Homo sapiens: one gene and its partners. The protein of the gene in region 2 purifies or fractionates together with the protein of the main gene of each other region. This does not show direct contact. Each region holds a gene or a part of one and is shown on either strand. Other genes may lie near its edges.

Region 1 (3,652 bases), on a different chromosome or scaffold from region 2:
AAACCCCTTAGAGACAGGGTCTCACTCTGTCACCCAGGCTGGAATACAAAGGTGCGATCACAACTCACTGCAGCCTCGACCTCCTGGGCTCAAGCAATCCACCCACCTCAGCCTTCCAGTGTTAGGATTACTAGCCTGAGCCACCGCACCCAGTCAACTTTTCTAACAGCTCAAGTCACTCTAATTTAAATGCATGAGGAGAATATCTAGGTATTTAAAGTTCGCCACGTATTTTCACCTGAGTGATGCTTCCCTTCCTAAGGCTGACCAAGACCAGTTCATCCTTTTAAACTCAAAATAAAATGACACCAGTGAAGGCGGGAGGAGCACCCTATCAGGGTGAAGGCGGGAGGAAAACCTCATTCGAATGAAGGTAGGAGGAGCACCCATCACAAAGCCTTGCCTATCTGAGGTTCTTGTCCGTGAGGCTGAAGTCCAGGCTCTCGTAGTAGAGGAGCTCCTCCTAGAAGATCTGAAGCAGTCAAAGGAACCAAACCGACACAGGCCGTCTGCCTGCTGATCACAGTCTCTTTTAAGACACTTTCTACTTTGCATTCTGATGAACCTAGGAGTTTTGTTAAACAGATTATGCGTGTATTTATCCCTCATTTCATGCAATAACCAAAAAGAGTTATCAGGAAACCCTGTTTGTCTTTTCACCCCATGTATGAACTCTCATGTGAATGAGTCCTGCAGTAATCCATGTTAAGGGAGCCCTAATTTCAAACTGGTGCAAATGGAAAAGACTTTCCCTTTTCCTTTAAGACTAAAGACAAAATGTCCTCCTGGCCGGGCTCGGTGGCTCACGCCTCTAATCCTAGCACTTTGGGAGGCAGAGGCAGATGGATCACGAGGTCAGGAAATCAAGACCATCCTGGCTAACATGGTGAAACCCCGTCTCTACTAAAAATACAAAAAATTAGCAGGTGTGGTGGTGGGCGCCTGTGGTCCCAGCTACTCAGGAGGCTGAGGCAGGAGAATGGCGTGAACCCGGGAGGTGGAGCTTGTAGTGAGCCGAGATCGTGCCACTGCGCTCCAGCCTAGGTGACAGAGCAAGACTCCGTCTCAAAAAAAAAATGTCATTCTATACAGGTGCAACTCAATCCGTTAATAAAAACTGATGTATGCTGGAGAGAGGAAGTGAAAAGAAAAAATAGGGCTGGGTGCGGTGGTTCACGCCTGTAATCTCAGCACTCTGGGAGGCCAAGGCAGGCAGATCACCTGAAGTCACGAGTTTGAGACCATCCTGGACAACATGGTGAAACCCCATCTCTACAAAAAAAATACAAAAATTAGCCAGACACCGTGGCACACACCTGTAGTCCCAGCTACTCGGGAGGCTGAGGAACGAGGATCGCTTGAACCTGGGAGGTGGAGGCTGCAGTGAGCCGAGATTATGCCATTGCACTCCAGCCTGGGCAACAGAGCGAGGCTTCATCTCAGGAAAAAAAAGAAGAACAGAAAAGAAAAAATAACAATAAATCAATGTAAGGCCAGGCATGGTGGCTCACGCCTGTAATCTCAGCACTTTGGGAGGCCGAGGCAGGCAGATTGCTTGACCCCATCTCACCAAAAAATAAAAACATTAGCAGGGCATGGTGGCACATGCCTGTGGTCCCAGCTACTCAAGAGGCTGAGGTGGGGGAGTCGCTTGAGCCCAGGAGGTCGAGGCTGTAGTGAGCCATAACCATGCCACTGCACCCGTCTGAGCAGAAGAGCAGGACTCTGTTCAGGAGATTCTCCTGCCTCAGCCTCCTGAATAGCTGGGATTACAGGCGCGCACCACCACGCCTGGCTAATTTTTATATTTTTAGTACAGATGGGTTTTCACCATGTTAGCCAGGCTGGTCTCGAACTCCTGACCTCGTGATCTACCCACCTCGGCCTCCCAAAGTGCTGGCATTACAGGTGTGAGCCACACACCCAGCCCTGCCTGTTTTTCAAAGTGTTTATTTACCGCTGTTATTATTTAATCATAGTATATCAAACTTACAAAAAAACAGATTATAACCTTAAAACTATCTCTTTTAGCCTGGCGCAGTGGCTCACGCCTGTAATCCCAGCACTTTGGGAGTTCGAGGCGGGTGGATCACCTGAGGTCAGCAGTTCAAGACCAGCCTGGCCAACATGGTGAAACCCCGTCTCTACTAAAAATACAAAAATCGGCCGGGTGTGGTGGCAGGTGCCTGTAATCCTAGCTACTCAGGAGGCTGAGGCAGGAGAATCACTTGAACCCAGGAGGTGGAGGTTGCAGTGAGCCAAGATCACCGCACTGCACTGCAGCCTGGGCAACAAAGCAAGACTCCACCTCAAAAAAAAGGGGGGAAAAAAAAGAACTATCTTTTTTACTTGAAATTTTAATTTTTTAAACCACTAGAATTATAAAAGCAGTCCGTCCCTGAAGGCAGATTCTGTTCTGTCCACAGGGAATAAGGAAGATCCTCTTTCTCTAAAATCTCTAAAACGCTGCTCAGATGGGGTCTCATCTCCCTTCCAGCGTGACTGGCTGGCCTGAAGCATAACATCCTCAGATGCTCTAGGTGGGTCCTACACCGGAGCCATTGGTTAGTGCACACCATAACCAACTAGACTCAGCATCCCCGCCCACGGCTGCACATCAAGAAGCTTCACCATGGGCCAGGCACAGTGGCTCGTGCCTGTATTCCCAGCTGAGGCTGGGAGGAGGCTGAGGCGGGAAGATCGCTTGAGTCCAAGAGTTTGAGGCTACTGTAAGCCATGATCACGCCACTGCACTCCAACGTGGGCAACAGAACAAGACCCTGTCTCTAAACATAAAATAAAAAATAAGAAGCTTCACCCTCATCTACACAGAATTCAAATGCACAGCTGAGGCCTCCTACATGCACCCAGGGGTAGTGCCCAGGGCCTAAGAACAGGGCTGCCAGATCAGCTGCCTCTCAGACCACAGCAAGGCAGTAAACCCGGTTTCAGGCAGCAGTCAGTACTGTATTGAGAGCCTGCCCCTCACAACCACCCCAGAGGTGGGTCCAGCACCATGGTGCCAACAGGCCAGGCGCACTGGGAGCTCCTCCACTGGTGGCAAGGTGGCCTGAAGCACCAGCATCTCCTGGAGACTGGGAAACCCAGACTGCAGAGACCGCGGCCAGGAACACTCGTCCAGGTTTGTTTCTCTCTCTCTACTCGAAGCTGAAATAATAGTTTATTCCCAAGTTAGGAAAAGAACAGAACCACACAGTACGCGGTTTAGCTCCAATACATGCTTTCAAATATTTAGGTCGAGTTTTCTTCTCAATCAGCCCTGGCCACTTCAGCCCCCATGTCCTGCATGCAAACACTGCCTCCTTCAGTCCTGCCTACCCAACATCAGGAGCCAAAGAACAGAGAGCGTGCGGCCCGGCCAGGCCCGGCCTCTCCCAGAGCAGGTCATCATCTGGTACTGGCCAGGGAAGGGAGCACTTCAGACTTTTGGCTCTTCATTTTGTTAGATCACATTTTGTTTATTTTGCTTCAATTTCAGTAAAGCTGAAATTTTTAGACCTCTTATACAGAAGCTCTTAATACAAACCCTAGACTTTTTGACTCATAGGTAGAAATCCAAGCAAAACCATCTCTTCAAAGTCAGATTAATTTACAAAGACAAACACCTTGGTTTTGACAGGGTTTTCCCTGG
Region 2 (3,652 bases):
TTACACAAACTTTCTTTGCCCCAGTTTGTTCATCTGTAAATAGTGATGATGATAATAATAGTTTTTCATGGGCATGTTAGAATTAAATGAATTAATATTTATAAAATGCTTAGGACAGTGTTGGCAATAATAGTAATAGTAGGTGCTATATGTGAGTGTCTTAAATTTTTAAAAGTGAGCCAAATCTATTAGTTCTCTTTCAAATTCTGGTAGCAGAGAAAAAAAAACACAAGCCATTTATAGATTTACATTTAATTAGAAAATTCTCTAGGATAAACACAGGGCTTAACTTACCTTTGAAGCCCTGCAGTATCTCATTTAGTAGATACCTGATAAATATACCATGAGTTATATTGAATTATCATGTGGAGTGGCTCTCAACTGGAGAGCAAATTTGGTAATTTGCAGACATTTTTGGTTGTCACGCTGGGGGTGTGTGTGCGGGTGCTACTGGCATCTAGTGGGTAGAGGCCAGGGATGCTGGTAAACATCTTAAATTGCCCCTACAACAAAGGACAGCCCCCTAACAACAAACAACTATCCAGTCCAAAATGTCAACAGTGCCAAGTTTGTGAAACTCTAATTTGGTGTTTTCCTGAACAAAATTCACTCTTTCTTCAGCCTAAAGTCTCATAAATATGTCAGTAAAATATGGATGGGCCAATTTAGGCTCAACAGTGAATAAAAAGTAAACCAAATGAGAGTTTATTTCAAATGTAAAGTTCATAGAGCATATACCCGAGGCCTCCCAAATCCCCTGGATGTGCCTGTCAGAATTTACACAGAGCCCAATGTCTGGGGCCATAAAGAGATCAGAAGATAAGCAAGGACACAGAAGCCCACACTATTATGAGCTGACTGACCATTATTAAACCAGAAGTGGGACCTCCATTTCTACACAGACCGAGGCCTATATACTAGTCACAGCTGGTCACCTTACCCTCTCCAGGTCCTGGCGTAGATGCATAAACATTCTCATTCGAGTGTGAATGCTTTCCTCTTTTGGCTGCACCAGCCCATTTTCTTCATCCTCCTTTGGAGGAAATAATGGCTTATTGAAGTTACTTTTCCGCTTCAGTTTCCAGTAGTTATAGATAAAGTCCACAGCTAGCGTGGGCATACCCAGCTCTGCGGCCACATCTTCCACTCGTACCAAGGAATAGAACTCCTCCTCCAGCTCCCGAAGCTTCTGTGCCCGCAGGCTGGTTTTCTCACTTTTGGCCTGGCTCTGCTCTTTAGCCCTGTGGTGGGGGTACTCAGCTTCTCCAAGTTTCTGCCTGTTTTGGCTATGCTTGAGGCAATATGACTTGAACTTCACTTCGTCTCCCTCATCTAGGATGGTCTTCATCTCTAGGCCGTGCTCAAAGGCACAGGTGACGTGGAAGGCAGTGATGCAGCTTTTTATAGAGCACTGTAGGAAGAAAATAGGTGTCAAGGTAGCAGAGTTGGAGGAAAAGGGAGAGACCTATGTTTCTGGACCTAAATTGATAGCTTGTAGGAAGCAAAAGAAAGACCGGGAGAAAGTTAGTCCTAAACTGACCATAACAGATGCTTTACAAGTAACCCAAGAAACCTGTTCTTACAGAAAACAGCAAACACAGAGGCCAAAAATAATTCAAACACTCCTTTTGAGGTTTCAGCTCAAGCATTCAAGCATCAAGTTTTCTGAGATGCTTTCCTGGGCTCCTGTAAACAGTCATGTAGTCTCTTCTCTGTGTCTCCCACATCACCCTATGAATGCTTTTAAAATGGTACTTTTCACACTGTACCTATAACAATTGTCAAGTCCTTAGGGATAGATCTTAAAAACAGAAGCTGTGTCTTTCATTTTGCATCGTCATTAACTATTGAAGAAGCAGTTGCTCAGAAAATGTTTCTAAACAAACAAAAGAAAACACACAAAGTGAGTATTATTGCTAGAGCATCCACTGGTTCTAAAAAAGTCATAGGAATTCCAATATCTAAGTAACCTAACTTCTTGAATTTTTTTTTTAAACATAAAAATTTTAGGCCAGAGCACAGTGGCTTACGCCTGTGATCCCAGCACTTTGGGAGGCCAAGGCAGGTGGATCACTTGAGGCCAGGAGTTCGAGACCAGCTTGGGCAACATGGCGAAACCCTGTCTCTACTAAAAATACAAAAGCTTTCTGGGCATGGTGGTGCATGTCTGTAGTCCCAGCTACTTGGGAGGCTGAGGCATGAGAATTGCCTGAACCCGGGAGGTCCAAGCTGCAGTGAGCCGAGATCACACCAATGTACTCCAGCCTGGGCAACAGAGTGAGAACCTATCTCAAAAAGAATTTTTTAAAATATTTAAAAATAGAGAATCTATGTTGCTCAGGCTGGTCTTGAACTCCTGGGCTCAAGTGATCCACCAGCCTCAGCCTCCTAAAGCGTTGGGATTACAGGTGTGAGCCACCATGCCCCGTGAAATTGTTGTTATAGAACTGAGCTGTCCAACTTGGTGGCCAAGTAGCCATGAGTGGCTATTTCATTTTTTAAAAAAATTTTTTTAGACGGTGTCTCACTTTGTCACCCAGGCTGGAGTGCAGTGGTGCAATCTCGGCTCACTGCAACCTCTGCCTCCCAGGTTCAAGCAATTCTCCTGCCTCAGCCTCCCGAGTAGCTGGGATTACAGGCATGTGCCACCATGCCCGGCTAATTTTTGTATTTTTAGTAGAGATGGGGTTTCACTATGTTGGTCAGGCTGGTCTCAAACTCCTGACCTCAAGTGATTTGACTGCCTTAGCCTCCCAAAGTGCTGGGATTACAGGTGTGAGCCACTGCGCTTAGCCTTAAATTTAATTAAAATTATGTATAATTAAAAAATTTAGTTTCTCAGTCACAGTAGCCACATTTTAACTACACTAGACAGCACAGACATAAAACATTTCCATCACTGTGGAAAGTTTTTTTTTTTTTTTTTTTTTTTTTTGAGACAGAGTCTCACTCTGTTGCTGAGGCTGGAGGGCAGTGGCACAATCTCGGCTCATTGCAACCTCCACCTCCAGGGTTCAAGTGATTCTCCTGCCTCAGCCTCCCAAGTAGCTGGGACTACACGTGCCTGCCACCACACCTGGCTAATTTTTTTGTATTTTTGGTAGAGACAGGGTTTCACTATGTTGGCCAGCCTGGTCTCGAATGCTTGGCCTCAGGTGATCCGCCCGCCTCAGCATGCCAAAGTGCTGGGATTACAGGTGTGAGCCACTGTGCCTGGCCCACTGTGGAAAGTTCTATTGAACAATATGGTTACAGACAATCTGAAATTAAGTTTATAATATTCTGCCATTCAGTCATAGATTTAACACATTTATTAAGCATTACTATGCAGTATGTACTGACTATTCATAGGGGGGGGCAAAGGGGGAAGGACCTGGCCCATGACTACTATACTCCTGTGCTTCAGTTAGCCTTAATTACTATTTGTTATGGTTACAATGTTACAGCTTTCCTTCCAAAGACTGACTGATTGATTGAGACTGGGTCTCACTCTGTTGCCCAGGCTGGAGTGCAGTGGCGCGATTTTGGCTCGCTGCAACCTCTGCCTCCCAGGCTCAAGTGATCCTCCCACCTTAGCCTTGTGAGTAGCTGGGATTATAGGCGTGCGCCACCAAGTCCTGCTAATTTTTGTATTTTAGTAGAGACGGGGTTT
Region 3 (3,652 bases), on a different chromosome or scaffold from region 2:
TAAGTCCAACTCTCCCATTAACTAAAGATTCTGATAAAGGCTTAGAAAGGATTGGGCAAAAAAGAACAGTTGCCTAATAGTAAGATATTTTCTGCAGAGGCAAATTAATAGAGGTTCTGAGTTGAAGGGAAAACACATTTAAAAATCAAGATGGATATACTTGATACAACTTTTTAGAGATTGCCAAACGTTCCTTTTCTTGCTTAGTGGGTTGTGTTCATTTTTCAGCCTTTTTACTGAAGGGTCTGTCACTGCTACTGCTATATATCTGAAGACAATAAACCACAGTAAGTGAGTTCTGTAAAACATACCATCAGCATCATCTGACTCTTCATCTTCTTCTTCATCTTTAGACTTCCTCTTAGAAGAGGACTGACACCTGAGTACATCCTGCGAAGACAAACGACGGAAGTATTCTCTAGGGAAAAGTTCATTTTCATCCTCTTCCTCCTCTTCTTCATCGATCTCAAACGTGGGTTCTAATCTTGGCATTGGCCTCTCGGAGTCAGAATCTTCAAAAGGTTCATCTAACACTTCAGTGGTCTCAGAAATAGTTTCTGTGACTACACTGCTATTGTGGTGTTTGCGCTTTCGGACTCTCCTCCTTCGGTGGAGAAATGGTTTCTGTTTAATAGAGAAAGCAAGTATTTACAGTTATGAACACTATCTTTTCTATTAATAATACGAAAACAGTTTTAAAACCAAATAGAATTAGCACATATAAAATGAGGATGTTGTTTGCCAAAAAATATTTTGAATATTATTTCAAAATACTATAGTAAGATAATACACTTATTATAAATACAAAGGTATTAGGCAATTGAACACAACTTTGTAAAAGAATAGGCAGCCATCTCCAAATAGCAGACATTATAATTCTCTTAATAGTTCAGTTAAATTTAGCACCCTAGAGAGTTGCCCTGTTTTAATACTGAACTGACCCAGAGGCTAATCCCTTAACTTTTCCAACTTAAGAGCAAAAGAGAAATAAAAACACTTTGTCTTATAGCACTACTGTGAAGGTTTGCAGAACTATCAGTAAAGTTGTATGCCATTTTCATGAACTACTCATAAAAAGCTGTGGAATGTAGAAATATGGGGCTGAAATGTATTTACTCAGTGTTAGTGAAATATTTCAAAAGTAAAATAAATCTGTTACTGAAATTTGGGCACACTGAGCACAACTTTGCACTGGACTGACCAAATAGCTAAAATTATACAACTAATATCACAAAATAAGAGATGATGCCCCAGAGATTATCTAATCCAATCCCTTCATTCTATAGATGTCAGAGAGGGTATAGGACTTGCTTAAGTTCACACATCCAGTCAAAGCATTTATTCATTAACTTCAAAATTACTTTGCATGTGAGCTTACTGCCTGTTCTTTTTCTTTTTTTAACATGATTTGTTTTACTTCATAAATTGGCAATACAAGTGCTAGGATGACAAAGATCTATTCTTCATGATCATGCAATGAACAGCAGTTAGTCAATGTTCAATTTTTCTCTACTTCAAACTTAATAGTCCCAATCGAGAATGTAATTTTCAAATTAGATTAAAAATGGCCCTGGTCCTTGGAGAAAAGGCTGATTCTAGGACAAGGGCATGAAATATACAAGATGAACTTGAAGCATCTTGTAGTGCCAGAAAGGAAATGCTTAAAAACAAACAAAAAGACCCCACAATGACAACAACAGTATATATGTTAAACACAGGAGGCCAGGCGCGGTGGCTCACACCTGTAATCCCAGCACCTTGGAGGCCAAGGCAGGTGGACCGCCCAAGCTCAGGAGTTCAAGACCAGCCTGAGCAACATAGCGAAACCCTGTCTCTATCAAAAGTACAAAAAATTAGCCAGGCGTGATGGAACATGCCTGTAGTCCAAGTTATTCAAGAGGCTGAGGTGGGAGCGTTGCTTGCATCCCAGGAGGTGGAGGTTGCAGTGAGCTGAGATCATGCCGCTGCACTCCAGCCTAGGTGACAGAGTAAGACCCCATCTGGGGAAGGAAAAAAAAAAAAAAAAAAAAAAAGCAGCAGCAGCCCAAGAGGGAAACTAAAAGAAGGAGCTTCTAATGGTCAAAACTGGAACAATCTGAGCAACAAATTTTAAAAAGCAGTAGTATTGGATTATAAAGTGAAGTATCACGTAAATATCTGGGCCAATAATGATATAAATAAATGCTTGGATAAATAAACAGATGAGGGAGAAAGGACAAATCTCCCAAGCAGAAATTCAAATAATTTATGCTGAGCCTCCACTCTGAGGGGGTAGAAATCTTAAGTGTGGCTATGCACAGTGACTTCCTTCCAGTAAAGGGAAAAGAAAAGTAGAAACCTGACAAACAATATCTTAAGCCAGGTCATCAAAGTTAACTTCAATAGGGAAAAATCAAATTGATAATACCCTTATATTTGATACTTGCTTCTTTTTATTTTTACAGACGGAGTCTTGCTATGTCACGCAGGTTGGACTACAGTGGCTATTTACAGGTACAATCATTGTGCACTACAGCCTCCAGCTCAAGTGATCCTCCCGCCTCAGCCTCCCAAGTAGCTAGGATTACAAGAGTGACCACTATGCCCAGCTTCCCTATACATACTGATAGATATATGCCAACAGGTACCCTTTAATTATGTGATGAGAATGGCACTTTACCTCTATGGTCTTCCTCTCAAGAATATATTACCCCATTCTAATATCATGAGGGATCATCTACAAAATACCTGACCAGTCATTCTCAAAACTATGAAGGCCATCGAAACTAAGGAAATTCTGAGAAACTACCACAGCCAAGAGGAACCTAAAGACACATGACTACTAAATGTAATGCGATATGCTGGGTGGGATCCTGGAACAGAAAAAGGACGTTAGGGAAAACTATGGAAATCTGAATAAAGTATGAACTCTAGTTACTGATGTATCTACACTGGTTCAGTAACTGTGATAGATGTACCACACCAACGCAAGGGATTAATAATAGAGGAAACTGGCTGGGGTATGCGAGAACTCTCTGTACTTTCTTTGCATTAATTCTGTAAATGTAAAACTGCTCTGAAGATATTATTCTTAAAACAAAACAAAACAAAACAAAAGATCCTGTCTTGCTTTTTAAGACCCTGTAAGGAAAGGAACGATTGTGCTGCTTTGGCTGGAAGCTGGCTGAGTGGCTCTTCCAGGGAGCAGCCTCGCTTCAGTCTGGCTGCCTCCTGGCAATGCTTAAAATCCACTCCATAGCCTGGGATGTTTCTGGTAAACGGCTTAACAGAATTCATTATCATCATTGTACATTATTTAATAACTAATTGGCTATCATTATGATGGAATATAGTTTAGAAAATATTTTTAAAGCAAGAGAGACCACGTTAAACCACTGGAGGGATGTGTGAGAAGTGGGGAGAGTAGAGAGAAAACAATAGCACCCAAGATGAGCTACTGTACTCTGAGTACCCCAAAATATAGGGCAGCACTATGTTCACTTTCCAATTAATTATGTAATATTTTGGCCTCCTTTTCTAATATAAACACTTCTAATCTGTACATACTTTAAAAATATCTTTTAAAGATATTTTAGGGCTTTAAGCCCCTAAAAGTCATGATTTGAACATCAAACCAGTAAGCTAAAAAAAAGTTTGTTTGCATCCCAGGAGG

Evidence for each region.
Region 1: the proteins of JADE3 (region 2) and BRD1 purify together in Homo sapiens (affinity purification with mass spectrometry, with the first as the bait; one large-scale study listed by BioGRID). This does not show direct contact.
Region 3: the proteins of JADE3 (region 2) and KAT6A purify together in Homo sapiens (affinity purification with mass spectrometry, with the first as the bait; one large-scale study listed by BioGRID). This does not show direct contact.

The regions. Positions count from the first base shown.
Region 1 is NC_000022.11:49,817,819-49,821,470, forward strand, and holds part of BRD1 (bromodomain-containing protein 1), read right to left. Parts: intron 3,169-3,652; exon of another isoform or gene 3,016-3,168; intron 566-3,015; coding exon of another isoform or gene 404-565; intron 1-403. UniProt on the Homo sapiens protein: Scaffold subunit of various histone acetyltransferase (HAT) complexes, such as the MOZ/MORF and HBO1 complexes, that acts as a regulator of hematopoiesis.
Region 2 is NC_000023.11:47,051,917-47,055,568, reverse strand, and holds part of JADE3 (protein Jade-3), read right to left. Parts: intron 1,412-3,652; coding exon 941-1,411; intron 1-940. UniProt on the Homo sapiens protein: Scaffold subunit of some HBO1 complexes, which have a histone H4 acetyltransferase activity.
Region 3 is NC_000008.11:41,936,945-41,940,596, forward strand, and holds part of KAT6A (histone acetyltransferase KAT6A), read right to left. Parts: intron 625-3,652; coding exon 312-624; intron 1-311. UniProt on the Homo sapiens protein: Histone acetyltransferase that acetylates lysine residues in histone H3 and histone H4 (in vitro). Component of the MOZ/MORF complex which has a histone H3 acetyltransferase activity. May act as a transcriptional coactivator for RUNX1 and RUNX2.